Regions from separate parts of the Homo sapiens genome. Here region 1 is reported to be linked to region 2. The links are microRNA targets in miRTarBase. Many come from high-throughput screens and were not tested one by one. Region 2 holds a microRNA gene; the other region holds the end of a gene's coding sequence.
What was found. Region 2 holds the annotated microRNA hsa-miR-5197-3p (AAGAAGAGACUGAGUCAUCGAAU, at 10,241-10,263, opposite strand). A microRNA usually pairs through its seed, bases 2 to 8, with sites in the 3' UTR of a target mRNA and lowers its output. Matches are read on the target gene's strand: a 7mer-m8 pairs with bases 2 to 8, a 7mer-A1 pairs with bases 2 to 7 and ends in A, and an 8mer does both.

Region 1: miRTarBase lists AIFM2 as a target of hsa-miR-5197-3p. Seed matches in the 3' UTR shown: 7mer-m8 at 1,836-1,842 and 7mer-A1 at 2,641-2,647.

Annotation. Positions count from the first base shown.
Region 1 is chr10:70,100,002-70,115,009 of GRCh38, reverse strand. AIFM2 (AIF family member 2) reads left to right here. Exons shown (of 9, transcript NM_032797.6): 8 at 1-90; 9 at 681-2,739. The coding sequence ends at 832. It overlaps MACROH2A2 (macroH2A.2 histone), which reads right to left. Exons shown (of 9, transcript NM_018649.3): 7 at 14,713-14,802; 8 at 5,803-5,977; 9 at 2,728-3,492. The coding sequence ends at 3,327. Among named protein-coding and RNA genes, the nearest start is that of AIFM2, 25 kb to the left of the region's middle. RefSeq lists an enhancer at 7,445-7,524.
Region 2 is chr5:143,672,755-143,690,185 of GRCh38, reverse strand. MIR5197 (microRNA 5197) reads right to left here and starts at 10,326; the gene lies at 10,215-10,326. LOC105378210 (a long non-coding RNA gene) reads right to left here. Exons shown (of 3, transcript XR_944377.3): 3 at 13,777-17,431.

The sequences.
Region 1 (15,008 bases), not on the chromosome of region 2:
TGGCCTATCTTGCCGGCCTCCACGCCAACATCGCCGTGGCCAACATCGTCAACTCTGTGAAGCAGCGGCCTCTCCAGGCCTACAAGCCGGGTAAGAGAGGCCCCATGTGCTTTGCAGTTTTAATAGAGTTTGGGGTTAAACATGGGGAAGCCTTTTTGGGCTATCCCATACCTGGCCACTAGAACAAACTCTCCAAGCTGGTGATGGAAACATCCCCTTAGAGCTCTTTAAAAATAGGCTGGGCGCGGTGGCTCACACCTGTAACCCCAGCACTTTGGGAGGCCGAGGCGGGCAGATCACCTGAGGTCGGGAGTTCGAGACCAGCCTGACCAACATGGAGAAACCCCGTCTCTACTAAAAATACAAAATTAGCCAGGTGTGGTGGTGCATGCCTGTAATCCCAGCTACTCGGGAGGTTGAGGCAGGAGAATGGCTTGAACCCAGGAGGTGGAGGTTGCAGCGAGCCAAGATCACACCATTGCACTCCAGCCTGGGCAACAAGAGCAAAACTCTGTCTCAAAAAAACAAACAAAAAAAAATCAGGGTCTCACCCACCTTCCTAAAGCGATTTCACATTTCCGGCCCTGAGTCTGAAGGCCTCGGGAAGGATCGGCACTCTGGGAGGTGCAGCCCCAGGCGGTTCAGTGAGGTTCTGGTTGTTTCTGTGTCTCTGCTTGCAGGTGCACTGACGTTCCTCCTGTCCATGGGGAGAAATGACGGTGTGGGCCAAATCAGTGGCTTCTATGTGGGCCGGCTCATGGTTCGGCTGACCAAGAGCCGGGACCTGTTCGTCTCTACGAGCTGGAAAACCATGAGGCAGTCTCCACCTTGATGGAGAGGCCAGGCGGGAGAACTACCGCAGCAGGTGGGCGTACGGACTGCTTGGCGCATGGCACCCGCCTGGCAAGTGCTAGAACTAATGCTATTCTTCTGGAATAAGATGCCAATGATGTGGTGGCTAGAAATGCAACTTGTATAAAACAAAAATGGGAGAGAGAGAGGTATTAAACAAATACCCCCCTTAGAGGATACTTTCTGGGTTTGGAAGGTGTGCTTGCTGTGGTACTGGGTGAGCGGCTCATGTGTGCTGGCTGCATGGTGCTGGGGAGGCCACAGCCAGCCCTTCCTCTGCACCTGCCTCCTCTGGGATGTGCATGTGTGTGTACGTGCTTGTGGTCATGACGCGTGCCATTTAGAGCTCTCAGAGCAGGGCAGATTGCTGGGCTCTGGTGGCCAGTGTCTGTCTGTGAGGGCAGGAAGGAGAGCTGCACATTGAGAACAAAGGAGGGACCTGAGGTGGAGAGAGGCCCAGCACCCCAAATCTCTGCCATCACACGGTCGGGGAGCCCATACATTCTGCAACAACCAGGGACTTCACAGGAGCCTTGTTTTCAATTTGCTAACAGGTGCATAATCCCTGTGCTCCTTAAGCCTCATGGCCTTCCTACATTTCCACTTTATTTGTTTGTTTGTTTATTTATTTTTGAGACAGTCTCGCCCTGTCACCCAGGCTGGAGTGCAGTGGCACGATCTCAGCTCACTGCAACCTACGCCTTCTGGGTTCACGTGATTCTCTTGCCTTAGCCTCCCAAGTAGCTGGGACTACAGGCACGTGCCACCATGCCTGGCTAATTTTTGTATTTTTTAAATAGAGACGGGGTTTCACTGTGTTGGCCAGGCTGGTCTCGAACACCTGACCTCAGGTGATCCATTCGTCTTGGCCTCTCGAAGTGCTGGGATTCCAGGCGTGAGCCACTGCGGCCAGCACATTTCCACTTTTAGATCCTACTCCATACCACAGGTTTCATTTAAGAAGAAAGAGCTAGATAAATGTGCTCTTCTGGTTACCCCACCCTGACAGAGTGCATTTTTACACGGCTAGCAGGGGTTGAGACTGCAGCCTGGCCTGCCAGCCATTGGAGGTGTTTAAGGAAGGGCAGATAATGTGACTCTTTGCGGGGTGCCATCTGCTTACCCATTAGCGAGCAGAGGGGGTTTCTGCGGGTGACCCCCAGCATATTTCTAGGTTACTTATGGGCAGATTTGTAAGTGACAAAACTCCAGCTGATGCTGGGAATGGGGAGAGGGCCCTTGAGGGACTTTGTGGTTTTGTGCTTCTGGTTTCCTGGCCAACCCCAGGGTCACTTGTCTGGAGGCCCAGCTGGGCACTAATGTCTGCCACCGACTATGTTACAGTGTATAAATGATTCCTCTATTTGGGAGAGATCTTCCAATCCAGAGGAGCCCCTCTTGGACTGCCTGGGTTAAATCTGCATAGCAGAAGTGGTTGATGAGTTCATCTGAAGAAATTCAGGCCCCACCTCCCCACCCTGCCCCTCCCTGCTCCCTTTTGATGGTGGCCTCTGGGTACTCGGGCAGAGTCCTTGGGACACCAGCCTCTCTGGGGTTCTCAGGCCATCCCGTTGGGGCTGTCGCCCAGGCCTAAGTGAGTCGTGTGCCTCTATTGGAGGATGGCTGTTCCCCTGGTGGTTGCATCCAAGTATCTGTCTTTCTTTATGGACCACGAAGGGAAGCCCACCTTCCTGGAGGCAGGACCTTCGGCCTAAGAAACACAGGCCCTGGTGCTATCTGACCTGGGGTCCAGCGAGGTGGGAATCCCAGTGTGTGAGCGACAGGCCTTCTTCTATTGACTTACAATATTCTAGAAGGACCTACGTGTGGGGACACAGTTTTCCAAACTGAGGAAAATGTTGCAATAAAAGAATATGTTGTAAGAAAGACACTGGATCTTTTATTTTTTTCCTTTCATTTTCTTTTTCTTAAAAAAACAAAATGAAACCAAAAAAAAGCCTGAATCAAAACCTTTTTAGGAGTAGTTACAGATATTATAGGGATGGGGGCGGGGGGCACTAAAACAAAAGAGAAAAGCACCAGTGAGATGTCTTTCCCATTTTCTTCTCTCCGCCACGGAACACGCACACCAACAGAGCCCAGGCCACTTTTTGCCCTCTTCCCTTGGAAAAAGGAGGAACAGAAGATTTAAGAATTTTGAAAGGATTTTTTTCTTGTGTGAATGTGTGTAAAAGTCAATGCTATAAATCTAAAACGAGGTCTGTTTTTTTAAAAAAGTTCTAAAACAACAGGAGGAAAACACATGGAAAGAAACCCCTCGCGGAGACCTGCTTCCTTACAGATGGAGGCTCTTTTGGAGGAGAGTGTGAAGGGCAGAGGGCTCCCTGCGCCGGCAGGACCTGCCCGGCCACCCTCCACTCCCCTGCCATCACCCCTCCTCTCTCCTTTTAAAAAGCAAAACCCCACTCTTGGGACTCGGGTCGTCCTCCGATCCCTGCTGGAAAGTGCGGCGGCTACTTGGCGTCGAGCTTGGCCATCTCCTGCACGTAGATGCCGATGCTCTCGCTGTCGAAGAGCAGGAAGTACACGTTCTTCAGCGAGGACGCGCTCGAGTCATCAAAGTGGGCTGAGATGGCTTTGAGGGTCACCTGGGCCGCAGTCTGTTTGGGAAAGCAGTTTCTGTGCCAAAGCAAAAGAAGAGCCGATGTCATTTTGGTCCCTGGGACCCATGGGAGCATGAAGTGCCTTTGTTTTTACTGGGTGGGGCCTTGCTGTGTGCAGGGCTAGTCCATGCATGATCTCCTTTGACCCTAGCCAAAGGGACAGCCTGGGGGTGGCAGGTGGGGCATGTTGCCCCCACTTTATAGGTGTCACACTGACTCGGAGAGGCACAATGATTTAATTTGATTAAATTAATTTATTTGTTTTGGGATGGAGTCTCTCTCTGTTGCCCAGGCTGGAGTGCAGTGGCGCGATCTCAGCTCACTGCAACCTCCACCTCCCGGGTTCAAGCGATTCTCCTGCCTCAGCATCCCAAGCAGCTGGGACTACAAGTGCGCACCATCATGCCTGGCTAATTTTTGTATTTTTAGTAGAGACGGGGTTTCACCATGTTGGCTAGGCTGGTCTTGAACTCCTGACCTCAGGTGATCCGCCTGCCTCGGCCTCCCAAAGTGCTGGGATTACAGGTGTGAGCCACCGTGCCCTGCCAAGCACAATGATTTTAGTCAAGGTCACAGGGCTGGCCAAGTGAAGAGTGCCCTGTATTTTATTTTTTATTATACTTTTTTTAAATTAGTTTTTTTTTCAGAGGCAAAGTCTTGCTCCATCACTCAGGCTAGAGTGCAGTGGTGTGATCATAGCTCACTGCAGCTTCAAACCTCTGGGCTCAAGCTATCTGTCTTCTGCCTCAGCCTCCTCAGTAGCTGGGACTAAAGGCGTGTGCCTATAAAAAAATTTTTTTTTTTAAATTTTTTGTAGAGATGGGTCTTGTTATGTTGCCCAGGCTGGTCTCGAACTCCTGGCCTCAAATGATCCTCCTGCCTCAGCCTCCTAAAGCTTTTGGATTTACAGGCGTGAGCCACCGTGCCAGCTCCCTATATTTGATTCTATGTCACCTGACCAAGTCAAGCTTGGCTTTAAAAATGCTAGCCATTCAGCATTAAAAATACCTGGTCTTCAAACAAGCAAACAGAAGTTTTATTAGCTCCCTCCAAACTGGTTTATATACTAACCCAATTGCTTAGTAAAGGGCAAAAATGTATGCTCCAAACCTGTCTTCGTAAGTCCTTTTTTATGCACTTAATATTTCATAGGCACAGGCCCATGTAATTTCAGCATTGTGACTCCGGGCATGGCGGGGTTAATGAAAGTTTGTTAAAGGCCCCAGGTTCCAGGGAGCTACTGATAGTGCCATCCACCAGGCTGGGCCACAGCACCAGCTTCCAGGGACACAGCCAGAATGGTCGTTAGGGGTCAGCCACAGAGACCCCTGGAGCAGGTCCAGGAGGGGCCTGTTAATAGGAATTCTTCCCAATCGCATGTATTCCAGCACAGAACAGCACTGCCGTGGTTCCACCGACGAAAGAATGCATCTCACAGCATCTCTGGGCCTGGAATGCTGAGACTCAATGCTGCTTGCCTAGGTTGATGTGTGATTACAGCAGGAACCTAGGTCTCATTATTTTCCTCTTGGGCTTCCCAGGACACAGCTATAAACCATAGCTATATTATAAAGGACAGCTCTCAAGGTGAGAGGGTGTTCAAAATTAAAGCAATAGATTGGCTAGGGGCATGAAGGGAAAGGATATGTTTTATGTGACAGCAGATATCCTCATTATGTATCTGAAACAATGCCCAGCTGGGATCTGTGACAATCCAGTCATTGCCCAGTCTCCTTTTCAGCAATCACTCGGGGACAGATTTTCACTTCTCTGGGTGTATTCATCAAAGCCTCGAACTCCTGGCTCTGCAGTCTCCCAGAGCAGCAACGGAATTCTCTGGGGATTCTGGAGCCAGAGGTCGGAGATGGGGGGCCTGAGATTCTGCATTCTGACATCGGTCACTGCTGCCTATGGACCACACTTTGAGTAGCAAGGCCTTCGAGCCTGGCGTTTTCTGATCATGTGTCCTGGACATGGACAGCTGGTGGGAATATGGACTTTGAACCTGGAAGGCTCTCAAAAAATAACACACCAGCTGGCCTCTGCCTCCCGCTCCTCCCCTGGGCTAGCCTTCCTCCTGGGGCTTTAACATCAAGGAGGCACTGGGGCTGGCCCCAGCCGGGGAAGACCTGCTGCCTAGGAGCCAGTGGGCTCGCTTCCCCATGGTTTCTGAAGGATGAAAACCGGGTTTCCTGCCCTGTCATCTGGTCAGCATACTTGGCTGTGCTGGCAGCCCTTGGCAACACCCAGATCAGATGTAAGTGGGGGAGCAGCTGATTTCCAGGGAAAAAGCCGGAGGAATCAACTCAGGGGAACTGCATCTTACCTGCCGCTGGGGAAAGGCGGGAACGCGACGGACTTTAGCTTCTTGTCCTCCGCCGCTGACAGGCAGTTTTTGATGGTCTCTTCAAGCTGTTCTTCACATTTGTCGGAGCCCCACTGAGGGATGTGACAGTGGATGACAAATTTGGCTGCGAGTCCACTGGATTGGCTGACGGCGGCTGGGACATAGGAGAGAAAATGCCGCGGGTTATTTCCTAAGGTTTCCTAGGTTATAGCCTAACCTCATCAGGTACCTGTTAGATCTGGAGATAAGGCAGTGATAGAGACGTTGGCTGGGCAGCATCCTGTGCTCCTGATGTGGACTATGTTTAACGAGAGCAAGAGCTGGGCTGTATTGCTTTGCACAGTTAGCACAAGCTTTGGGTAGAAGCGTTTAATGCTGCTCTGATGCGCCATTTTCATATGGTCTGCCAAGTAGTCCCTGGGTTGGGCTACCTCCTCACAATGGTTCCTAGTTAAAGGGACACATCAGATCCTCTCTGGTGGCTGTGGCAGGTAAAGTAATGGCATCCCAAAACATCCACGTCCTCCTCCCTGAAACCTGTGGGTGTTCCCGTACATGGCAAAAAGGACTTTGCAGATGTGATTAAGTGAAGGCTCTTGAGATGGGGAGATGATCCTGGACTGTCTGGGTGAGCCTGGGACCTGATAAGAGGGAGGCAAGAAGGTCAAAGGCAGGAGAAGGCCGTGGGATGAAGGAGACAGAGATTGGAACGATGCAGCCAGGAGCCAAGGAATGTTGCAGCTTAGAAGCTGGAAAAGGCAAGGAAGGGATCCTTCCCTGAGCCTCCAGAAGGAACCAGCCCTGCCAACACCTGGATCTTAGACTCTTAAAACTCATTGTGGACTTCTGGCCTCCAGAACTGTAAGAAGACAAATTTGTGTTGTCTGAAGCCACGAACTTTGTGGTAATTTGTTACAGTAGCCACAGGAAATGAATACAGTGGCTTTTATTTTTATTTTTTTATTTTTAGTTTTTTTTTGAGACAGAGTCTTTTTCTGTCGCCCAGGCTGGAGTGCAGTGGTGCGATCTCAGCTCGCTGCAACCTCCACCTCCTGGGTTCAAGTGATTCTAGTGCCTCAGCCTCTCGAGTAGCTGGGATTACAGGCATGTGCTAATTTTTAAAATTTTTTTATAGAGATGAGGTTTTGCTATGTTGCCCAGACTGGTCTTGAACTCCAGGGCTCAAGTGATCCTCTTGCCTCAGGCACCCAAAGTGCTGGGATTACAGGCGTGAGCCATCACACCTGGCCTACTGTGGCTTTTAAAAAATAGCTGTGCCTGGGCCCCACAGAGTCAGGGTACTGACCACCCAGAGGTCCTGACTCAGTAGGTCTGGTGCAGGGGCTTATGCTTATGTGATTTTAGGACCTTCTATGAGTTGAGAACCACTGAACTTGATTGTGTAGTTCCTTGACAGGGACTGCCATTTGATGATCTCCACATGCCCTGCAGAGAGTGGGGTTTCAAAAGCGGGCTGTGAAACTGAATTAGGCCAGCCTTGTCTCACAATTTCTGTCATACTCCTTTGTTTTACTGTTTACTCCCCTAAATGTGGTTCCCATTGGTGACAGAGTTGATAAAGCCCCGTGGCTGCTAAGCTCGAGGGAAGTCCCTGTGGGACTCCCCAGGGGAGCAGTTCCCTCGGATCTGCCTGAGGCAGCTGCAGCTTCAGCCATGAGCCATGCTTGCCCCCACGCTGCCCGTCTGCGCCCTGTGCCCCTCCAGGAACCCAGGAATCGGCGTAGCAAGGGTCCGTGGCCACTAGGGGCAGCACTTGTAACAGAAACGTGTGTCCGCCGTATTCCAGAGCTGTGTGTGGGGTTGAGGTGAAAGACTGACTGGAAATCTATGATGCCCACCTAGTTTATATAAGTATTTCCTGGCAATGTCCACAGTGTCAGGGAAGTGCTGACTGCACTTCCTCACATGGGTAGAAGCCAAATCCAAGGGACCCCTTCGTCCATCAGGGGAGGCTGTAGGCTCCCTGCCTTCCAGTGCCTAGACGGGGCTCAGTGTCATCACACGTGAACGCCTGAGTGCAGGACCCAGGCCACACAATACACCGAGGCCCTGGGTAGGGGCCCGCCATGCGTGCTGACTCTACGACCACGTATATTTGTGCACCAGAAGCAGAGTGTCCCTCTTTGGACTGAACAATGATGCCCCTAAAACTGGAGGCTGCTCTGCTGAGAACCAAGGACCCTGGAGATGGGCCTTGCCTGCATGGTGCCATCTTCCCGAGCACCTGGCTGCTATTGTATGCCGGACAGAGTTTGGCTTGTTACAGTCATGGCTGATTTATTTCATATATTTTAAAAGTATAATCATGTTACTAGCAGAATGGTATTCCTCTAATGTAAAGTCTTTTTTTTTTTTTTTTTTTTGAGACAGGATGCCCCTCTGTTGCCCAGGCTGGAGTGCAGTGGCTCGATCACAGCTCACTGCAACCTCTGCCTCTCGGGTTCAAGCGATTCGATTCTCCTGCCTCAGCTTCCCAAGTGGCTGGGATTACAGGCACCCGCCACCATGCCCGGCTAATTTTTTGTATTTTTAGTAGAGATGGGGTTTCACCATGTTGGCCAGGTTGGTCTTGAACTCCTGACCTCAAGTGATCCACCCACCTCGGCCTCCCAAAGTGCTAGGATTATACTGCACCCAGCCAAAAGTCATTTTTAAATAAAAGGAATATGTTCCTATTGGCAATGTCAAACATCCAATCAAGTAAAAAATGACTTTCAGGGTAGTGCACGATGACATTTCAGTCCAAAACAAAGTATGTTCATGGCAACTGGAAATGAATAACACAGCTTGTAGCCATAATGCTTTGTAATGTTCTCCAGAGTTGTCAAGGATGAGGGTCAAGTTATTGCAAGGGCTGTGACCCTGGTATTTGGTATAAGCACCTATCCACATAATGACTAGGGGCATTCTCTTACCTAATGTGATGTTGCCTGGTGAAGACCTGCATTCTGAGGGTGGCAGTGCTGCTGCTGGGAGCTTCTAGAACCTTCCCCCAGGTGAGCCATCACAGTTCTTGGGAGTCACCACAGCAAAAGGGGACTCTAGGTTGGCCCCTTGTCCTGCTGAGAGGCTGCTACTGCTGATGCCTGGTTTCCGTGACACTGTGGGTTTTCTTTTAACAGCACCTCAGTTTCCCACAATGGCCTCTCTTCTTCCTGCGTGTCTGGGCCCAGTGCTCTTCTCTCTGCTGCAGCCCCACCTCCTAAGCAGCCATCTGCAAGCCATTTTCCTCCTTAGCTTTCAACAGGGACCTGCACCTCATGACCTTTCTGGGGCCCCAGGGCTAACACGTGCCCAGTAAAATGGCCATTCACTCCTGAAACCCGATTCCCCTTTTTCCCTCTTTGTCACTGCAGACACCATCAGTTTCCTCTGCCTTGTCTCATTTCAGGCCCATGTGCTTCATTTTCACCCCCACTCCACCCCCACCCTCATCCAATACAGCTTTCTTGATGGTCTTCGGGCCCCAGCCCTCTGTCTGCCAAACCATCCTCCACACGGTTGCTGGAGCCAAGGTCCTTAAACTCCACATTTAAACTCAGAATCTGCAACTGCTCCTGATTGCCCCCTGGCCTTACTGCAGTCCTCCCAGGCTCCCTTCATGGTCGGCCCCTCTCCCCTTGGAGTCTATCCATTTCTTGCTCTTTCTGGATGCCCAGTCGTCCTCCAGCCAGTGGGCTCAGTCCCCTGCACACATGGGTCTGGCTGCACCTCTGTCTCCACACTTGGCTATCCTCCTTTGTCCCTGACTCCCTCGCCCATTCTCTCCGGGCCTCTGCCATGCAATTCAGCAGCCAGCTGTGCTAAGTGATGTACTGTGTTACCCTGGGGTCCCCGCCTGGTTGTAAAATTCAGGAGTGTTCAGGGCCTACAATCACATCCACATCCTGATGCCTGCGCCCGACAGCACACACCGTAGATGCTTAACGTGAACTGGTTCTGCCCCAGCTGACATCTTCACTGAAGCACTTTTGTATTCCTTGCTGCTGCCTGGCTCCTGCCACAGTCACTGGCAGGCAGGTGCTCCAATATTCAACAAATGAATGAAAGTCCTGACTTTTCATCAGTTTGCTCAGCCCTGGAAACCCTGGACTTACCTTAGCTCCAGCTTCTGCCTCCCTGAACATGCAGCATCGCTGCCTCTCACTGACTCTGCACCTGAAATATTTTCTTGATCCACCCTCCCCGACCCCCTGCCACAGGGTGGGCCTGCACTGCAGTTGGTCTGTTTTAACCATGTTAAGATGCACTTTTTTTTTGTTTAAATATTTTAATATTGTTGAAATCAGGAAGCATCTTAGAACTGCTGTCAGCCTGGAGCTGAGTTCTTCCAGAAAGAAATTACATTTCCTTCTATGTCACCTGGGGACACTACCAAACTAAGGCTATGTCTCACTCTCTTCTCTGCCTCAGGTTTTGAGCTGCACTGGATCTGGCTGCAAATCTTCAGGAGCACTGGCTTGCGGTTCAAATTCTTTTTCTGTTTTTTAGACACAGAGTTTCACTCTTGCCACCCAGGCTGGAGTGCAATAGCGTGATCTCGGCTCACTGCAACCTCTGCCTTCTGGGTTCAAGTGATTCTCCTGCCTCAGCCTCCCAAGTAGCTGGGATTACAGGCACCCACCACCACGCCCAGCTAATTTTTGTATTTTTACTAGACAGGGTTTCTCCATGTTGGTCAGGCTGGTCTCAAACTCCCGACCTCAGGTGAGCCACCCGCCTCTGCCTCTCAAAGTGCTTCGATTACAGGCGTGAGCCACCATGCCTGGCCAAATTCTTTAGTGAGGCTTTTTTTTTTTTTTTCCTCTCTGTCCACTGGATGCCAAGGTCAAGATATTTGCTCCTCCTTTCTGCGTGGTGGGTTCATGTCTTGCTTGCTGTTATACTAATGTGCCCCAGCTTTATGTGGGGCCTCCTATTAGACACTTTATTTTGGAAATTTATTTTTTCTTAATGTTACATACAATAAGAGTATATCTTAACAACTGATGGTGTTTTTAAATGAAATGCAGTGTGGTGTTAGACAGTGGCGAACCATCTCCCCTTCTCCATTTTTCCCAGGGTGCTAACACTCACTGGCCCCAGGCCATGGCTTCTTACACCTAACATATTTGCACCAATGTCTTAGCTCAAAATTGTGTCCTGTAGCCCTCTCCTTCCTTCCAGGTTCATGTCTATTTCCTTGGTGCAGACTTTTGTATTCTTTCCAGCTAGTGTCTGGATTGCTGCCTCTCAACTTCTGCACGTCTGAAATTGTACATCTTTTGTCCTCATTCTTGAATGACAACGTAGCAAAATGTGGAATTCTTGGTTGACAGTTTTTTTTTTCCCTTCAGTGCTTTGAAGGTATTTCTTTCCTGTTTCCACACATCTTTTTTTTTGCTGATGAGAAGTCTGCTGTCAGTAGAAGAGCCATCATTTCTTTACAAATGATCTGCCTCTCCTCTCGGGTTACTTTGAAGGTTTCTTTTGATTTTTCAATTTCTAAGGCTTTACCACAACACTCCAGGTTTTGGATTTATTTTCATGTATTTTGCTTGATATTTTCAGCTTAAGGGCTCATGCTTCATCCTAGAAAATTCTCAGCTACGATCTCCTTAAATAATGCTTTTCTACTTTCTATTTCTGCCTTTGGAACTCTGTTTAGAAGTGTGTTGGTGCTGGGCACGGTGGCTCCCACCTGTAATCCTAGCATTTTGGGAGGCTGAGGCAGGAGGATCACTTAAGCCCAGCAGTTCAAGATCAGCCTGGGCAACACAGCAAGAACCCATCTCTATTTAAAAAATAATTTAAAAAAGAAGTGTGTTGGAGCTTCTCATTCTGTGCAGAGCAGCTATTTTTCCTCTCCTTTGCACCCTATCAGGCAGTTTCTGGGGAACCTTCCCCACACCCAGGCCCCCAGTCCTGATGCCGTCTTAGATGACTGAGTTGGGGCTTGGTCTCATGGTTATATCGGGGATGTGGTAGAGCCAAACATTGAGTCGGTGGGCAATGTGGCCCTGGGCTTGGGTGAGGGGCTCTCTTCTCCCTTCTGCTACCCTAGAAAGACAGATTTTTATAGAAGTTGTAGCCCTGGGTGGTGGCGAGAGCTTTGGCTTCTTGTAAAGGCCGCGAGAGTCTCATGCAGCCCCTTGCTTTGGGCAGTGAGTCTGGCTCTGGCCCTCTTTATACTCTGATACAAAGTGAAGCGACTCTGCATCTTATAGACCTGGAGCCGAGGCCTGGGGCGGCAGCATCCTGCAGGTGCTGCTGCAGCCCTCCTGTCTCTGTCTACATGGAGGCTTATCTTATATTTGAGTGTGGCTCTTAGGGTTTTTAAAGAGACACTGCATCTATTACTGCTTTGCCTGTGGGGAGTAGTGGGTGGAGATTTAAAGTGTGGGCTCTTGTTCTTTCTGGACTAGAAGCCCCCATTACTTTTTTCTTTTCTTCTTTTTTCTTTTTTTTTTGAGACAGAATCTTTCTCTGTTGCCCAGGCTGGAGTGCAGTGGCACGATCTTGGCTCACTGCAACCTCCACTTCCCAGGTTCAAGTGATTCTCCTGCTTCAGCCTCTGAGTAGCTTGGGATTACAGGCATGCGCCACCATGCCTGGCTAATTTTTGTATTTTTAGTAGAGACGGGGTTTCACCATGTTGGTCAAACCGGTCTTGAACTCCTGTCCTCGTGATCCGCCTGCCTCAGCCTCCCAAAGTGCTGGGATTACACGCATGAGCCACAGTACCTGGGCCCTACTTTTATAACAATCAAGTCTAATCTGGACAGCCCCCTGCTTAAACTTCCAAGTGCCCTCATGTCCATGTAGGGTCAGATCCAGACCCCTTCGCACAGCCCACAGGCCCAGACTCATCTTGGCTGCTGTTTCTCTCCTCCCACGTGCTGACCCAAGACTCCCTGCTCATGCAAGACAAGCGTCTTCTTGCATGCAGTGCTCCTATTGCCCTCTGTGTCCCACCCCCAAGGGGTCTCACAGCCTCACTGCAGTCCTCCCACGCTCCCCTACGCTGAGGTCGTGGCTCCTGCTCTGTGCCCCAATTATGCATCTGAGGGCAGCGGTGGGTTTTATTTTCCTCTGAAGCCCTGCGGCACTTGGCACTGACTGAGGGTACAAGGAGTGAACTGATTGGGAGTCATGTGGGTGGGAACATGGATCTGAGGTTGAATCCACCTGTCAAAAAGTTGCCCAATATCCTGGACAAGAGATGTTTAAAAAAAACTTGTGCACAGATGTTCACTGCAGCTCTATTCACAATCACCAAAGGCGGAAACAGCCCAAATGTCCATCAGTAAATGAACGGTTAAACAAAATGGAATATTATTCAGCCATGAAAAGGAATAAGTACTGACCCATGCTACAGTATGGATGAACTTTGAAAAAAATGTTAAGTGAGAGAAGCCAGACAGAAAAGTCATATATTGCATGATCCCATTTATATGAAATGTCCAGAATAGGCAAATCCGTAGAGACAGAAAGTAGATTAGTGCTTGCCAGGGCCTGAGGGGGGCACTGGGCATGACTGCTTAATGGTTAGGGGGTTTGTTGGGGGAAAAGCTAAGTGTTGAGAGAAGCTGAGGCAGGGCTTGCATGTCTGACGTAATGTAAAAGAGTCTTGGAACATGTCCGGGGTCCAGATTCGAAAACGCCTTGTGGCCTTTGGAACACCAAGCTCTGTGCCAAAGGGTGGAAGGCCACCCTGACACACCATAATCTAAGCCCAGGGCATAAAACCCCTCGTGGCTTGGATAGAATCCAGGGCTCGTGGCTCTGAATGTGTCTAGACTTGCTGGCTTCTTGCTCCTTGCTCTCCCAGGATCGATTGTATCTTGAGTTAAAAGAACCTGCTCTCCATTATCTCAAGTAGCAGAATATGTTCCAAATGCTTCAAAGGAAATGCTAAACTGTCACAGCTGTAGATCATGCGCTTGCCCTTTCGACCCCCACATCCTCATCACCTGTTTCTTTGTTTGATCACCAATAAATAGCCTGGGCTTCCAGAGCTCGGGGCCTTCACAACCGCCACACATTAGTGACAGCCCCCTGGACCCACTTTCTCTCTCAAACTATCTTTTCTCATTCCTTTGACTCCGCTGGACTTTGTCACCCCCATGACCTGGTGTTGAGTCCGATCAACCCAACAGGGTTTCTGTGTGAGGTGATATCAAAGCTCTGGACTAGGTGGTGGTGATGGCTGCACGACACTGTAAAAGTACTTAATGCCACTGAATTATACGCTTTAAAATAGTTCCAGTGGCCGGGTGTGGTGGCTCATGTCTGTAATCCCAGCACTTTGGGAGGCCAAGGCGGGTGGATCACTTGAGGTTAGGACTTTGAGACCAGCCTGGCCAACATGGCAAAACCCCATCTCTACTAAAAATACAAACACTAGCCAGGCATGGTGGCATGCGCCTGTAATTCCAGCAACTCGGGAGGCTAAGGCACAAGAATCGTTTGAACTTGGGAGGCAGAGGTTGCAGTGAGCTGAGATCATGCCACTACACTCCAGCCTGGGCGACAGAGTGAGACTCTTTCTCAAAAAAAAAAAAAAAAAGAACAAAACATAGTTCCAGTGGTAAGTCCTATGGTGTGTGTATTTTATCACACACATGCAAAGTTCACCCAATGGCTCTAGACCATTTTGGGGGATCTGATGCAAACTGACTTGAATTATTCAAACATATTGGAGTCCCCAGGACATCTGAAAGGATCTCTATGGGCCTGCCCAAATTACCTGAGATGCTAAAACAGCTTTCTGATTAGTTATGGCATACTTTGACTCATAAGCTGAATAGGCATGAGGCACGTGAGGCTGGAGACTCCAGAGAGGAGGGTGAGGCCATGCTGGTGACAGGAGCCTAGTTCCACACTTACCTTCGGCGACTTCCAAAGGGCCTTGGGATTTGCGAAGCTCCTTTACCGTTTCCAAGAACTCTTTTCCCCCAGCCTTTTCCAAGGCTTTACCTGCAAAGGAGAGCAATGGGAAGCCACTGTGGTTGTTCTTTCAATCTAATTACACTGTTTGACATATTTGTAGTAGGCCAGGAGAAAACAAAAGCACTGTTAGAAACTAGGAATTGAACTTCCCAATTGTTATCCTGGTTTGCCAGTGGTCAGGGGAGGCAGGGGACTCTGGGCCTCAGTCTAGCAGACTTAGATTGGCAAGCTTT
Region 2 (17,431 bases):
CTCCTTGGAGAAACAGAAACAAGAAAGAATCAAGTGAAAAGTCTAGAACTGAAAAACACAATATTTGAAATAAGAAATTCACCAGAGGGTCTTAAGAGTTGAATGGAGATGTGAAAGAAAAGAGCAAGTCAAATTGAAGATAAATCAATAGAAATTATCCAACATGAATAACAGGGACAGAGAGAGAAAAAAAAAGAATGACTTAAAAAATGAAGCCTCAGAGATCCATTAGGTAATTTCAAATAGTCCATATGCATGCAAATAAAATCCTAAAAGAGAAGGGAGAGAATGGAGCAGAGAAAGTACTTGAAGAATTAATGACCAATAAATAACAAATTTGATGAAAGACTAAAATGTACAGGTACATTATGATAAATGAAAACCAAGCAGAATAAACATAAAGAAGCCCTCACCACAGATCATCATACTCACATTGTTGAAATCCAAAGATAAAAAGCAAATCTTGAAAGCAGGAAGAGAAAAATGACAATCCTATACAATCCTATACAAAATGACAAGCCCTATACAAGGAAACAGTGATCTGATTAATGGTCAGTTTCTAAGCAGAAACTATGAAGGCTGAAAGAGAATGGAGTAATAGTTCCAAAGTACTGAGAGACAATAAAAAAATTGTCAAACCAGAATTTATTACCCAGCAAATATATCCCGCAAAATGAAGACTAAATAATGACATTTTTGCATGGAACAAAACTAAAGTGAGTTTTCACCAGCAGACCTGAACTACAAGATATGCTGAAGGAATTTATCCTTCTGAAAGGAAATGATACCAGATGGAAACTTAGATCCTCAGAAAATATTAAAGAGCACTGAAAGTAGGAAATATCTGGAAAAACGCAAAAGACTACTTTTAAATTATTTTCTTTTTCTCTTAATTTATTTACAAACCATATAAATGTTTAAAGTGAAAATTATAATGTTGTCTTAGGTTTATAAGGTATTCAGATGTGATACAAATAACCACTGTAGCATAAAGAAGGAAGAGTGGATATGGACCTACATGGGTACAAGTCTCCTATGAGTTACATGAGTGGTAAAATACTAACTGGATATAGACAGTAGAGAATTAAGGATGTATATTGTAATCCCTGGGCTGCCACACACAAAAGTAATAACACAAATAAATGCAGCTTCAAAGCCAATAAAAATATCTTTCTAAAAATTATTTAAGAATTCAAAAGTATAGGAAGGAAAGAAAAAGGAATAGAAAACAAGAGAGAAGTAGAAAATAAAATAAAATCATTGATTCAACCAACCATAACAAGAATTACATTAAACATTAAAGGACTGAACAATTAAAAGGCAGAGATTTTCAAAATGGATAAGTGCAACATGACAACATGCTGCCTGTAAGAGATATGCTTTAAATATAAAGACAGATATGGGCTGAAAGTAAATGGATGAAAGAAGATGTTGTACTCAAACTGTACACATAAGAAAGTTGGAGTGGCTGTGTTATTATTTTAATGTGTAAATTTTAACTCAAAGAATGACTACAAGACATCACTCAAGAATGGCATAGATTTCTCATGTTTTCCTAAGGTTAGGAAATGTTTCCCTATCTTGGATTTTTCCACCCCTATTCTATTATCTTTAACATTTTACATTTTTTTAGCATTATGTGGTATACTGTGCCCTTTCACAGACCTTATAATAAAGGTAAAGCAGAAATTACCCCCATTTTAGAAATGAGAAAACTATGCAGAGACCAATGAATTAATTATTCCCAGAGAAACATTAGGTCAAAGAATCTCATTTGAAACCCAGTCTGTGGATATATACTGCCTTCCACTTTATTATGCTACGTCTTTCCTCTTCTGCAATGAAATTTTCCTATTGATAACTGTATTTCTCAGGAAGGCCTAGTTACTGGGAGAAAATTGATTGTAGGTAGAATGACATTAGAGACAGAGTCTATACCTACAAGCCATATGCTTAGGTGGAAGAATGTTAGAGACCCCTAATCTCATCGATTATGCTGAATTTTTTATTCTCTCAAGAAAATTCACAATATTTAATTAAGGAAAAGAGGAAATAATCTATAAGCAGGGCCTCTCTCAGGAAGGAGGTAAAGCTATCAAGGACCTATCCCAGGAAAGCTGCTTTGGCCCACACATTCAATACCATCTAATACCCATCTGTTTGGGGTGGACTTTGAGGAATTTTAAAAGAATTTTACTGTAAATTATCTTGTATTTACACAAAGAATAAATTTGTTTCTTCTATTTCATTCTTTGTTACTTCAAGCTGGAATACACAGAAGAATTGGGGGATATTCTATGCAGCAATTTGGCTTAACATGCTGAGCACTCAAATATTAAAAGAGAAATGGATAACAGTAGATATCACATCTGAGCTGGCCACTCACTCTGTTTACATGACTCAATGCTATTTGGTTAGGCAGATGGAGGAAGATGGTTGCAGAGGGGATGAGTTTATTGTAATTTCAATAAATTAAAGTTTGAATGTTTTCATATTTTTCCACAACTCTTTTTTTATTTTTATTTTATTATTATTATACTTTAAGATTTAGGGTACATGTGCACAATGTGCAGGTTAGTTACATATGTATACATGTGCCATGCTGGTGTGCTGCAGCCATTAACTTGTCATTTAGCATTAGGTATATCTCCTAAAGCTATCCCTCCCCGCTCCCCCTACCCCACAACCGTCCCCAGAGTGTGATGTTCCCCTTCCTGTGTCCATGTGTTCTCATTGTTCAATTCCCACCTATGAGTGAGAATATGCAGTGTTTGCTTTTTTGTTCTTGGGATAGTTTACTGAGAATGATGATTTCCAATTTCATCCATGTCCTACAAAGGACATGAACTCATCATTTTTTATGGCTGCATAGTATTCCATGGTGTATATGTGCCACATTTTCTTAATCCAGTCTATCATTGTTGGACATTTGGGTTGGTTCCAAGTCTTTGGTATTGTGAATAGTGCTGCAATAAACATACGTGTGCATGTGTCTATAGCAGCATGATTTATAGTCCTTTGGGTATATACCCAGTAATGGGATGGCTGGGTCAAATGGTATTTCTAGTTCTAGATCCCTGAGGAATCGCCACACTGACTTCCACAATGGTTGAAGTAGTTTACAGTCTCACCAACAGTGTAAAAGTGTTCCTATTTCTCCACATCCTCTCCAGCACCTGTTGTTTCCTGACTTTTTAATGATTGCCATTCTAACTGGTGTGAGATGGTATCTCATTGTGGTTTTGATTTGCATTTCTCTGATGGCCAGTGATGGTGAGCATTTTTTCATGTGTCTTTTGGCTGCATAAATGTCTTCTTTTGAGAAGTGTCTGTTCATATCCTTTGCCCACTTTTTGATGGGGTTGTTTGTTTTTTTCTTGTAAATTTCTTTGAGTTCATTGTAGATTCTGGATATTAGCCCTTTGTCAGATGAGTAGGTTGCAAAAATTTTCTCTCATTTTGTAGGTTGCCTGTTCACTCTGATGGTAGTTTCTTTTGCTGTGCAGAAGCTCTTTAGTTTAATTAGATCCCATTTGTCAATCTTGGCTTTTGTTGCCACTGCTTTTGGTGTTTTAGACATGAAGTCCTTGCCCATGCCTATGTCCTGAATGGTAATGCCTAGGTTTTCTTCTAGGGTTTTTATGGTTTTAGGTCTAACATTTAAGTCTTTAATCCATCATGAATTAATTTTTGTATAAGGTGTAAGGAAGGGATCCAGTTTCAGCTTTCTACATATGGCTAGCCAGTTTTCCCAGCACCATTTATCAAATAGGGAATCCTTTCCCCATTGCTTGTTTTTGTCAGGTTTGTCAAAGATCAGATAGTTGTAGATATGCGGCGTTATTTCTGAGGGCTCTGTTCTGTTCCATTGATCTATATCTCTGTTTTCTACAACTCTTAAGATATTTAGGTAACCAAAATAGAATTAGCTAACACTGATCAAGAGAAGAAAACATGCAGGCTTGAAGTTTTTCATTCACAATCTACAGAGGAAGATTTATGTAGTCTAGTGGAGCATTTGACTAGATCATTTTTAAGGTCGCTTTTGATTCTCATGTCCTAGGATTTATCTAAGAGCTCCCAAGGAAAGGGGGATGATGGTGATTCACACATTTTGTCTGGTCCCTTTTATATGCCAGGTGTTCTACCCATGACTTTATGTTTATGACTTAATTTAACCCTCAAATCAGCTTAGTGATGCGGATGGTATTATGACCATTTTAGGGAGGAGGAAATTGAGCCTTCCCAAGGTAAGACAGTAAGTGGTAGAGCCAAGCTATGAACCCAGATCTACCCAACTCCAAAGCCCATCCTCCTCCTACTCCTCTAAGTCAATTCGTTCCTCTTCTCTTTTAGAATATATAGTCCTTATCGGCCACCTGATATTTGTGATTTAGAGAACCCCAGCATTGCATGTTAACTACCTTGATGGTGTTGTAAGAAAGGTTCAGGGGCATTTCAGAATTTTCATCAAAAGAAACATCATTTGATGCCCTGGGTGTCAAAGTTGTGGGTACCAAGTTTGTGAAGTATGCCTTTCTTCATGCAGATTGCCTTCCAAGAGAGGGCAGTCTATGCTTCCAGATAGTCAGGGCCCTGAGTTGTTTAATCCTTGCAATATCCAGCACAGTGATAGAATCAATAAATATTGGAATGAAAATAAGCTAGGCATAGAAAGGAATTGTTTGATCAGTGGCGGACTAAATTAAAGTCCTGTTGAATAGAGCACATTTTCCAGACTTTCCATAACACAAGTTGAAAATCTTGGCCCCACTGTTTTCATCTAGCACAGAGGAAATCACTTCTATTTGTGCAAATGGAAAATGTTTCTGTCTGAATAGTTGACAGATGTTGCTTTAGGCCAATGGTTCTCATCTCCATAAAACCTAAAGTCCTCTTTGTATATATAAAAGGTAATAACAGTTTCTTTACAATCCTACACAGAAATTTATAGATTATATAACCAATACAAAATTTTTAAAATAAGTACTCTATATATAATATGAAAGAGAGATAAAAGTAATTTGTAATAAAATAACACATTTCATCAGTAAAATCCTCAGGCATGACAACACTAGAAGACAGTTTTTAAAAGACACAGTTTAGGTTGGGCACGGTGGCTCATGCCTGTAATCCCAACACTTTGGGAGGCCAAGGCGGGTGGATCATGAGGTCAGGAGTTCAAAGCCAGCTTGGCCAAGATGGTGAAACCCTGTCTCTACTAAAAATACAAAAATTAGCCGGGTGTGGTGGCATGCACCTGTAATCCCAACTACTTGGGAGACTGAGGCAGGAAAATCGCTTGAACCTGGGAGGTGGAGGTTGCAGTGAGCTGAGATCACGCCACTGCACTTCAGCCTGGGTGACAGAGCAAGACTCCATCTCAAAAAAAAAAAAAAAAAAAGACACAGTTTATTACCATGGATATTGCTATTACTAATACTAATAGTATTACCATGAATGCACAGCCCAATGCAGATGGATGCAGGTGTGTTACATTGGACACTTGAAAACCTCTTATTGCATTGCTGTCCATGATGTGATTTTTTTTCCCCCAAATGATGAAAACCTCTTGGTAAAGTTCCAAACAAATCAAATACAATCTCCTTTGATTTATAAAGTAGTTGCATTCCTGAAAAATTTAGACTATATTAAACCTGTATACAATATTTTTTATTATGTCTGAAAGAGTTAAGTTTGAGACTCTAGGATGCCTGCTGGGACAGTTCTTTGTTGTATAAAACTATCCTATCTAGCCTCCCTGAGGCCCACTCACTAAATGCCAGTCACATCACTTCAATCATTCAGACTAGCAAAAATGCCACCACAATTTTTTTCTTTTTTTTTGAGACGGAGTCTTGCTCTGTTGCCCAGGCTGGAGTGCAGCAGCATGATCTCGGCTCACTGCAAGCTCTGCCTCCTGGGTTCATGCCATTCTCCTGTCTCAGCCTCCTGAGTAGCTGGGACTACAGTTGCCCACCACGACACCCAGCTAATTTTTTTGTATTTTTAGTAGAGACGGGGTTTCACCATGTTAGCCAGGATGGTCTCGATCTCCTGACCTCGTGATCCGCCCATGTCGGCCTCCCAAAGTGCTGGGATTACAGGCGTGAGCCACCGTGCCCAGCCCACAAATTTTTAAAGCATCTCTGAGGAGGTGTAATCAACCTCCTTGAGAATCACTGCTCTGTGTAGCCAAGTGAGGTCCTGAAAAGCTATGTGAAACTTGAATTTTCTTACTGGAATCTAAATTTTCATATATTAAGTTTACTTAAAGTGAGGTGCATTCTTAAAAAAGACAAAATGGATTTTGTGGCATGAACAAAGGTGTTCCTCATTCACTATAGGTAATGTTCTTTGCTCACCCTAGGCAGTAACAAAAGACACTACTGACTGATGCAACTCAAGTAAGGAGAATGCAGAGTTATCTTATGTGTGTACAGACAGCTGATAAACAAAGAGCAGGTGGACTACAAATATGATAAAGATGCACTGGCATAGGTTCAGGCATCTGTGTATTCAGCTGACTCAAAGACTAGGCAAAAGCCTTTGGCCGTCTCACAGGTTGTTGGGGTCAATTCAGGAAAAAGGTGAGCTCAGGGAAAGATGAATGTCAATAGTTGCTAAAAGTTTATTATGGAAACAAAGGATATGAGTCAGGGTAGAGTGTGGATAAGTAAATGTAAATGAAGGGTTAAACATGCTAGTGATGTCACAGTCAGCCCAGGTGAAGCTATCTAGTAAATATCGCTTCATGAATTACATTCTCTTGGATCTGGATTTTGACCCGGAGGAGCCACTGGTGGATGACACAGAACTATATTCCGCCCCTGCCCCCCTATCCTGGAGTGGTAGCAATGAGTTATGATTGGGATCATAATATTGGGAACACTGTTCCCAAGACACCTTCTCCTTCCTTTAAATCTCTGGAAAGCCAGCTCACTTCAGCTGTGTGAGGCAAACATCTGTTCACCATATTGCATTGGTCATAGTGGAGTCTGTTCATCTGTCTCTTTGGGAGAAGAAATGGTGGGCGTGATTCCACACAGATATCTTGGCAGGCTGATAAAGACCACCTTCCAAGCTCCCCAAGCTGGAGCCTTCCCTAAAACTAGCCATGCACAGCTCAGTCTTGCTGTAGTTTGCATGCCTGCAGCAGATTCCCTTCTTTAAGAAGTCTCTGCAAATCAGGCCCAGACAGACTCCATCGCCTATTCACCTAAAGTTCACTAGGCAATGTGCCTGGTGTCATTTGAGCAAGCTGCTTGGCAGCCAATTTTTTTTTAATGATATGATTGCCCAGGCTTTCAAATCCCATTATGAAACTGTTTATCCTTTAATCAGAGCTTTAAAAAAAAATTGACATTTTAGTTTGATGGAAAGAGATGTTGAGGAGAAATATTTGGAAAATTGCTCTATGGGGCCAGATGATGCAGTGAGTCACAATCACTGAACATATTTTGCAGGGAGGAGGTCTGTGGTTGTCCCCATTCTTCCCTGTCCCAGAGCTCTTAATGACAGGCAGTCACTGGCTATTAAGGAAATCAATCCTACCATGGATAGGAAGAAGGTAGAACTAATTCCCAGGACAGCTATGAGATTCATTAGAAGAGTTATTAGGAAGAGAGGCCCACCCAGGCCCTGCCTTAGGGCCCCCTCCACCCTAGTGACAGAAAACAAGGAGGCCCCTAGCTATGTCCTACGTTGCATTCCAAACCCTGCATTGATGCAGCTTGTCTGTTATTGGAAACAGTTACCAGCCAACAGCAGAGTGTTATGCCTGCTGCTTCACTACAGCCACACATAACTTCAGGGCTGCAATATGATCTGCTTCACACAGAGGGAAGGGAGTATGTAGTACATTATACGTACCCAAAGTCAAAACAGGGGACTCAGGATTGGCTTTAAGAGAAACAGTTACATATTTCCATAAACATTCTCTGAGCTGCTCTCAGCTGTTGGGTTTTCTCACATCCACTTATCTAGAGAAAGCTTTGGGTGATACCACAGCATGGCACCCTTGTCCCCTCAAAAGCCCACACACATTTGACTGACTAGGAGAAGTGGGTGTAGGACCCTGGGGCATTTAGCCTCATAAGAACAAGAAAGTTATTTTTTATCACAGCTGAGACCTGGCATCTAGTGTGATGCCTGGCACATAGTAGGAATGAATGAATATAGATGGCACACAATCACTGAATGAGCCATCCCTCCCTCCCCAACCTCTTCCTCTCCCTGTCTTCCCCATTCCACTGCCTCCCACCTTTATTTCTTCAAAAGCAGGGGAAAAATCAGAGTATAAGATCTGGTCATGAAACAGAAAGAGTCAATGTTAGGTGACTAAGAGATAGAAGCAATGTCTGTGTTAGTTAAGAATATGAACTTGGGGATGGGCGCGGTGGCTCACGCCTTTGGGAAGCTGGGGCAGGTGGATCACGAGGTCAGGAGTTCGAGACCAGCCTGATCAACATGGTGAAAGCCTGTCTCTACTAAAAATACAAAAATTAGCCGGGCATGGTGGCATGCACCTGTAATCCCAGCTACTCAAGAGGCTGAGACAGGAGAATCACTTGAACTCGGGGGGCGGAGGTTCCAGTGAGCTGAGATTGCACCACTGCACTCCAGCCTGGGTAACAGAGCAAAACTTCATCTCAAAAAAAAAGAATATGAACTTGGGAGTCAGGTAAACTTAAATTTAACTTTTATCCTTTGCCACTTGTTAGTTGAATGACCTTAAACAAATTACTTACTAGTCCAAGCTTATTTTCTCATTTAGAAAGTGGGTCTAATAATAGTACCTACCTCATATACTTGTGATAAGGATTAGAGATAATGCCTGAAAGTACTTGGCACGCTACTTCAGACTTTAGTATTCAATAAGTGTTAGCTGCTTTTGTTATCTTTCCATATGCTCATTAATACTATGTGGGAATCAACCCAACTAAGCGACCACAGACAGACCTGCATCCCTCTGAGAAAAACTCCTACCTCATCCATCTCTGAAGCAACTGAAGTCTCTAGAATTATTCTTGGTACAGATTTGACCATTTATTAGCTTGGTTTCCATGGTTACATTAGCCAACCTTTGGGCTTTCGCGTCTTCATTGTAAACAAAGATGGCCACTCTATGTACACACCAAGATAATCACATGTGAAAATGATTGTAAAGAGTCCTAAGAGCAAATATGAGTTTTCAGTTTATGCTCTTGTCTAGAGAGCTAATATTTTAGGATTAGGTTAGGGAGTGGGAAGGAATATAAACATCTGGGAGCACTGTGTAATGTGTATCCAAAGACATTTATCCCAACATCACTGACTCATACACATCAATGAATTGAAGGGTTTGTCATTCATAACAATTATGCCAACCATTCTAGCTGCGTATAATCAGTAAACCTGTTTTCTTTGGAAAGCTGAAGAAGTCACATGGTCTCCATTTTCATTCCAGTGATGTTCCATGGTGGTTTTAAAAATTCAGGGGCTAGGGTTAGATAATTTAAAAAAGGCCCAGCACGGTGGCTTGTGCCTGTAATCCCAGCACCATGGGAGGCCAAGCCAGGTGGATTACCCGAGGTCAGGAGTTCCAGACAAGCCTGGGAAACATGGTAAAACCCTGTCTCTACTGAACATACAAAAAATTAGCCAGGCATGGTGGTACACACATGTAGTATTAGCTACTTGGGAGGCTGAGGTGGGAGGATCACTTGAACCCGGGAGGCAGAGGTTGCAGTGAGCCAAGATTATACCACTGCACTCCAGTGAGACTCTATCTCAAAAAAAAAAAAAAAAAAAAAGAGAGAGAGAGAATTAAAAACAAAAAAAACCTCAGGCTATATTTCTACCAGTGGACAGTCATTTTTCTCATACACAGTAAAGCAGTGTATATATAAAACAAAGTAACATGAATGGAAATGAAATAGCCAAGAAGGGAAAAGGGAATAGTGGATACAATCATCTTCATAGTTCAATTAATATTCTACCATGCCAAGAATTTTGCATATATTATCTCAACTCTTGCCTGTAAGTAGATACCATCATCTCCATGTTACACAGGAAGAAGAAATTAAGGCTTACAGAGGTTAAGTAATTTGGCCAAGGTCACAGACCTGTGAAGTGCAGAACACTGCCCTCTTTTAATGTCTGCTTTTCTTGTTTTGTTTTCTTGGATGGTTGAGTGGAACTGGCCACTCTGAGTTACCCTCTGTGTTGACAGAACATGAGGTGAAGTGACATTTAGAGCATTCGATGACTCAGTCTCTTCTTGAACTGGCAAAAATTCAAGAATGAGTTTGTGCCATTGATACTCATTGTCTGTGGAATCCCATACAGTTCTTCCCTAGCTGTAGATCAGGGTCAATCTGCAGTGACAGAACATTCTACTTCTCTAACATACCATCAGTTTTCTCTTATCACTGTAATGATCTGTTGGGTGACCTTCCATCAATCAGTCTGCTGTTCAGTTTCCTTCATTGTCATTTATGAAGCGTATCCTATAAGTAAAGCCCATTTATACTGGGCACATAGGAGACAGAAAAGTGAAAGAGATTATCCCTGCCTCCCCACGAGAAACTACTCTAGTGGAATTGACATGAATAACTAGGTAGGTAGAGAGAAATAGATGGATGAGGAGACTATGACAAATATGAGAATAAAGGCTAGAATAGTTTGCTATACAAGCAGGAAAGGGAGGGTGCTAGCTTGAAGGTGGGGATCTGAAAAGCCATCTTGAAGAGGCAGAATTTGATCTGGGCTTTGAAAGAAGGATGAGGGGCAAATCTTGGAGAAGGGTCGTGCTACCAAGCAGACAGGACTGTCTTGATTATCCAGCTCATAGATGGCCATCTTGTCCTCTTTTTCACTGGGCTCAGGAATAGTCTGAGCTGCTTTCTCCATACTGCAGCCCAAGGGATCACCACCAATTCTACATAACTGGTTGGTATAAGGAATGAATCCTCTTGACCATCCCTGATTTACCCCTATAGTGGCTCTGCAGGAAGGAATGTTAAGCCAAGTAATCGGGGAATTGTTGTATCCCACAGACCTGAGTAGATGACTATTTGGATTTAGAGAGGGTCTTTCAATAAAAATAAAGTACACAACAAATATAAGTACCTACTTATAGACATGTCCTTGGAACCTCTTACCTCATTCCTTACCTCTCTCTCATCTATGCTTCTCATGGTACTTTATTTAACAGAGACATTTGTTATTCACCTACTTTGTGCAGGGCTCTTTGCTAGGTATCATACAAAGATGTATAAAATATGCCATCTGTTCTCGAGGAACCATCAATTTATGGAAGTATAAGACCTACATTCAGAAAACTATACAAGTCCATATAATCAGAAGGTCATGTGCATTGGCATTTTGAAGTTCTACACTCTCCCATCTCTATAAAGTAACTGGCTTGAAAAAAACAATCTGCCTCCAAAATGTAGGGTATGGTCTCAGGAGAAAGTGACTCACACAAAAAGATGATGACTTTTTGTTCTTCTGCTGTCTCAGAATTTTTCTATCTGTATGATTCCACATTCAAATTCAAGTTTTGAGATGAATACCCAGTTCCCTTTGTATTGGGTGACATTCTATGCTATTAATCTCAATTGATAATTTTATCTGTGTAATGGCTTCTAAGTATGAAAAAAACAAAAAAATTCCTCTCCGATATTAAAGTTGGGAACCAAATAGAATAAATGTTTTACATCTGACCCAAGCATGTAGTGGAAAAATACAGAACCTGTATTTTCAAATCATTTAAATGAAACATGAAATTGAAACAGAAAGTCAATAACCAAATTAATCATCTTATTACAAAGAAAATGTAACCTGCTTCATTACTGTAATGGCAAACATCAATAGAGTAGAAAATTGACCAGTTTTCTTACATTAGAAAAAAATCTGATTCCTGGTTGCCTAGGAAGCTCTACTCATATTAGTCTTTATTGCATCTTCTGTAATGAATTAAAGCCTGTAAGGTCTCATTAGCACATTACTAATGTAAGTTTTAAAAGCCATATTAAATAACATAAAATGTTACAGTATGAATGTTGTGAGGCTGAGTGTTAAGAGAACAAATTTACATTTTACTATTTTGAAAGTGAACCCATTTGGTTTTGAAGATATTCAACAGCACATGTAAAATAACCAAGAACTTTATCCAAATTAAATAGCAAGTTGGAAATAAGGGATGTAAGTCTAAGAGGGAAATGTTCACCTTTTATATCTAAAGCAAGTCTTCCCAGATAAACCACTTGGCTGATCAAATCATGGGTCAAGAAGTTTGATCCTTGCTCCATCAAATTGGATTACAATTAAGGTTCTAATGTGTCAAAAACATATTTTAAAATATATTCCTTTTCATACAATATGTTATCTTCATACTCACTCACAGAATTTTAAGATCTTAAAGTGGCATAAATTAAAAGTAATAACAAAAGCTAAGAAAAAAATAACATGGGAAAAGAAAAGGAGTACTCAACAATAAGAGCAAGCTTGGAGGTGCACAGCACATTCCCTCAGACCCTTTCTATTAAAATGGAATGTGCCGCCACAGCATTCCAGTCCCTTTTCCAACCTATAATTAATGTTCGTCTTATTTGTGGTGTGAAACTAAAAATGTTCTGAGAGGTGATATACAGGCATTTCAGAGGGTAGCAGAGGCGGCAGCCAATGCTGTGAAGAGAATGCGAGAACACTACCACGACGCCATCATTTTCTTGCCTGTTCTCACCAAAGTGTTTCAAGCAGAGCCAGCTCCCAACAGGCAGGTATTAGAGACTATAGAGGTGCATTTTGGATGGGAAAGAGGTACTATATGTATATATGTGTATGGCAGATGTTGAGTAGCCTGTGTTAACTCTCTTCTTTTCATTTGTTTCAGCCCTTGAATGTTTTATTATAATTAATGTGTTCATTTTCTGTACTCATGCCCAGAGCATGTTGCAATAGGCATAATTTTAAAAATTGGAGAAATCCATTAAATAAATAATTAGTTTAAGGTGATAAAATACATTAAATGATTGAGAACAACTAGTACCAGCTCTGAATAAAGCAATTTTTTAAGAAAAAAGACACACTTTTAGAATTCCAACTTCAGAGTACTACTCTATTTGTCTAAAAATACAAGGTTGGCACCAAGCCCAGAAAGGTGGCAAGTGGAGCTTTGATAGACCAGGACAGACAGGAGATTCCAGAGCCGAAAGATCCCTGGTCAACATGCCCTGCCTTCAGTTGTCCAAGATCTAAATGGAGGATCTATTAGCAGAGACCCAGAGTGCATTTCAGCTGTCACCATTTGTGTATACAGAGACAGCTTAATTTTAGCAAGGAGGATGACTTAGTACCTGATGCTTTCAACCTCTGGTACCAAGGGATTTTAGATAGAATTCAAGTTGAGAGGATAAATGAAAAAATGTCTTTTTGTGGTTGGGATGGGGTAAATGTGTGCATGAGTGACTGATATAGGTATATGATAGCTATTGTTCACTAATATTAAAAGCTTGGGGAATTGGTTTCTCATAAATCTCCGAGTCATATATAGAATGCTGAAATGTACATATCCCCTTATCCATCTATAATTAAGTGGGCCTAAGTTTTACCCAATAGCTAATCATGGATTACTATAACCATTCATTTGAAACACTTTGTCTTCATAGCTAAGTATGTCTTCCTATACATCCTTGCCCATGCCCTGAATTGGGTAATAAGGGTCTTTTGTAAGGCCTTTTTGTGGTCTTAGACTTTGTGTAAAGGTGTTTTGTGGGTTCCTCTGGATCCTTTTTTTTTTTTTTTGTCTTCCAGAAGTCTCTTTCCATAAAAGCAAATTTGTCAGTTACAAAAAAAAAATGAGATTAAATAGAATAGTGTTTGTAAATGTATGTGTAAATGCAACATAAATGTCGATCATTTGATGCAGATCAAAATTGGCATACTAATCTAAAAGTACACAAAAAGTGTATTTCACTGTTTAAGTCTTATCAATTTAAGTTTGTACTCAGAGTTTCTAATATTGGCTAATTTCAGATTTTGCATCTTCAGATTCTCATGACTACAGTTACACTTAATGCATTTCAAGGGAAACAGAAATTTTTTTTCTCTTCTTCAAATGATTTGTTTTTCCTTATTTATCGGGATAGAATGTAAGATAGATTAATTCAAAAAAAAGCTCTCTAGTATCTGTTGACAATTTTTAAAATAATGCTAATTGCCACAGAGAGGGTCTTCTTATTTAAGTTATCATATGACCTTGGACCCCAAAACTACTTCTTTATCCATAAATTGTAATAGAAACATCCTCCCTTTTTTCTTTTCCCAAATAATGTGACATTCAGTCTTTCACTGGTCATGAAACATTTTTGAAATATGCCAAGTGTTATATAAATGTAAGGTAGTATTATCCATTGCTAATCCTGTTTTAAGGACTTTCATGTGTTCAGAGGTTTTACTAAGTGTTATCATGTCATATTTTCTCAGTGGCTCTGTTTCAGTAAAAAAGCACTAGATCTAAATGTAACTGAATTAATTAAAGCTTGGTTTTTGCTTGTTTGGTTAGTAGAATTTACCCATATTATATCTGTGCACACGTTCTCTGTGCCTATCCTCTTTTCCATCTGCTTCATATCCCTTGGACTTCACAAAAGAAAGGATGGAAATGATAAAAAGAGGCCACAGACAAGTTTATTGGGATTTTTTTGGTGGTGGGGGGAGGTGACAAATTTTCAAAATCTCCAATCCTGTTTCAGTTTCTCCTAGAAACAGCTGGAAAAATGACAACCCTATTCATTAAGTACAAAGTTAATCAACTAAGTGTCTGGCCTCCCAGCAATAGAGGAAACCCCAAACAGAGGTAACACTAGAGCAATGCAGGTCCAGCTGCTTGGTCTTCATTAGGAGGGCTTGGTTTTTTCCCATGTTTTCCCATGTTGTTGAGTATGGGAGTAAGAAAATGCTTGTCCTTAGCGAATACTTTAAGAGCAATTGTTCTGAATACAGAATGAGGAAACTGGAGTTTAAACTTTGCAGAGCCATTGCTAAGAACATCTCCTTCCTAATGATGCCTTTCTTTACAGAGCCTCATAGAGTTCATACAGCTCTTCACAGAGTTGGCTTCAAAAGTGGTCCCAGAGATGAATGGGCAAGCCACTGTTGCCAAGCCTGCTGAGAATCTGAGATGTCAAAGTGAAGTGGCTTTATAAAAGACACTTGTTTCTGCTTAGGTTCTAAAGCATCTAAAAGAGGAAAGAAAAGTTACCATTTAAAGCCAGAAACTTGACTGCCTTCTTTTTGCAGGCTAGGGGAAAGCAGAATCCACCTCAGGAGAAAAAGCTTTGTATTCAGGAAAATGCCTTGCTGGAACTATTTAGGTGTGCAATGTGAGCTGCTGCCTCTTCCCAGGCATCATATTTCTCAAAGGAGAAACAAAAACAGCAATATCAGTGCACTTAACATAATAGGAGAGAAATTTGGGAATGAGGACCCTGCAAAAGACAAAGAGGGAAATCACAAGAAAGACCAGGAAAATAAAAGGAGACAGATCTGGGAGGAGAGACAGCAACAAGGAGCTGCCAGAGGCAGCTGGTGGACCAACCATTGGCTGCGTGTCACCCTCGGCCACTCCTTTATTCACAACAGCCTTGGGGGGAAGTGGAAGGAATTCAGGGACAAGTTTGGGAAAGAAAGTATGCCACCCTTCTACTCTCACAGAAATACTGACAAAGCACTGTGGAAACATTAAGAACCAACCAACTAGCCCTTTCTTGGAGAGTCTGGGCTTCACCAAGAAGGTGATGGAAGGGAAGGTGCTTACCCACTTGGGCAGAAACAGCAGGCAGGGCATTTCTCTGAGGGTACAGCATATGCAAAGGCTTGGAGGTCTGAAGGGACCTGAGGAGCTTAGACAAAAAGCCAAATTGTGGTAGCTCTTTTTAATCAGGCTAAAACATGTTTTTCTTTACTGTTAAAAAGTGAGTAACTAAAGAAGGAATTTAGGCAGGAGAAAGACAAACAGATTTGTGTTGTACAAAGACAGCTCGGGTGTGTGCCTTCCAACCACTTATTTACTCAACAAATATTCACCAAGCTCTTTTGTGCTGGGGCTATGCTAGGCACTGGCGATGTGGTGATGAATTAACAGACTAATTCTCGCTTTCATGGCACTCACAGCTTGGTTAGAAGATAGATGTTATAAAATAGTCACAAAAATTAAAGTTTAATTTTAAGTGGTGGCAAATGCTATGCAAGGAGTGCTTTGATGGAGAATTAGAAGGGAGACCTAACTTTGATTGGGCCTCAGGAGGGAGTCAGTTCATTTAGGGCCACCCACCTGAAACTTGACAGATGAACACACATGAGCCAAGCTAGAAGGGATATAGGGGCTACATACCACCTGGGGAGCTAGAGGCTGAACAGTCAATCAGGAAACTATTCTGAAGGTCCAGACAGGTTCCTGAATTTTCATCTACAATTCAGGGGTTTGTCTGTGTTGGTGTTTAAAGCCACCTGTAGCTCTGAAGTTCTACAGCAAGTAAGCATCTGCTCACATTAGGCTAGGAGAGGATTAGGAAGGAAATGAAAGATATGTAAGATAGGGGTCCTCAACAAACAGTGACTGTCCAACAAATTGAGCTTTTGGTAGAGATTCAGAGAGTTTAGCTGTAGGGATGTATTAAACTTCATAGATCCTTGATAAAATTCTTACAGTACTTTTAGTTGTTTCTCACTGAAATGTTAGAACCATGTACCACTCCCCAGAACCCAACTTCTGTTTCTTAAAGTTTCTCCTCCTGTATTCCCTCTTATTTAGGGCTCTCCAGTCACAAAGTATATATGTGTATATATATTTGAAACTTACAATGTCTAATACAGAATTGAACACACACTACACATCATCATCATCATCTTTATAGTAGAGATAAAGGTGTTATTAACCAGCCAAAGAACTGCCATGTAATTGGTGACCACCAATAACATACAGGGACAGTGCCTTGCACTCAAAACTATTTGGATGGATACATGAATATACAAATGAACTCTGCTTCAAAGTGTTCAACTGAGAAACAGTACAACACCTGCCACAATCTCTCTAAGGCTGTGATACACATAAAGTGTGATTCTGTGCTGTCCTTAAGTGCTTCCACTCATGTGATAGACAAAAGGCAGGAGGTGTTCCCACTCATTCCCTACACTCTCAAAACAATTCTTGTTCTGCCCACTCAGTTTCTCTTCCCACCCCTGATAAGCTCCAAAGAGCTTCTCTCCCTGATTTTCTGGGCTTTTATATTCAGAACTGGGAGAAAATTGAGCAAAAGAGGTGAAAATAGGCTTTGGCCAGGCTTGAGGGAATGGAGCAAATTTTATTTTTGTTCTTTTCATATTTATGGGCCACTTTTTCAGTAATTTTTATACTTTTACATAATAGTATCACATCATAAAT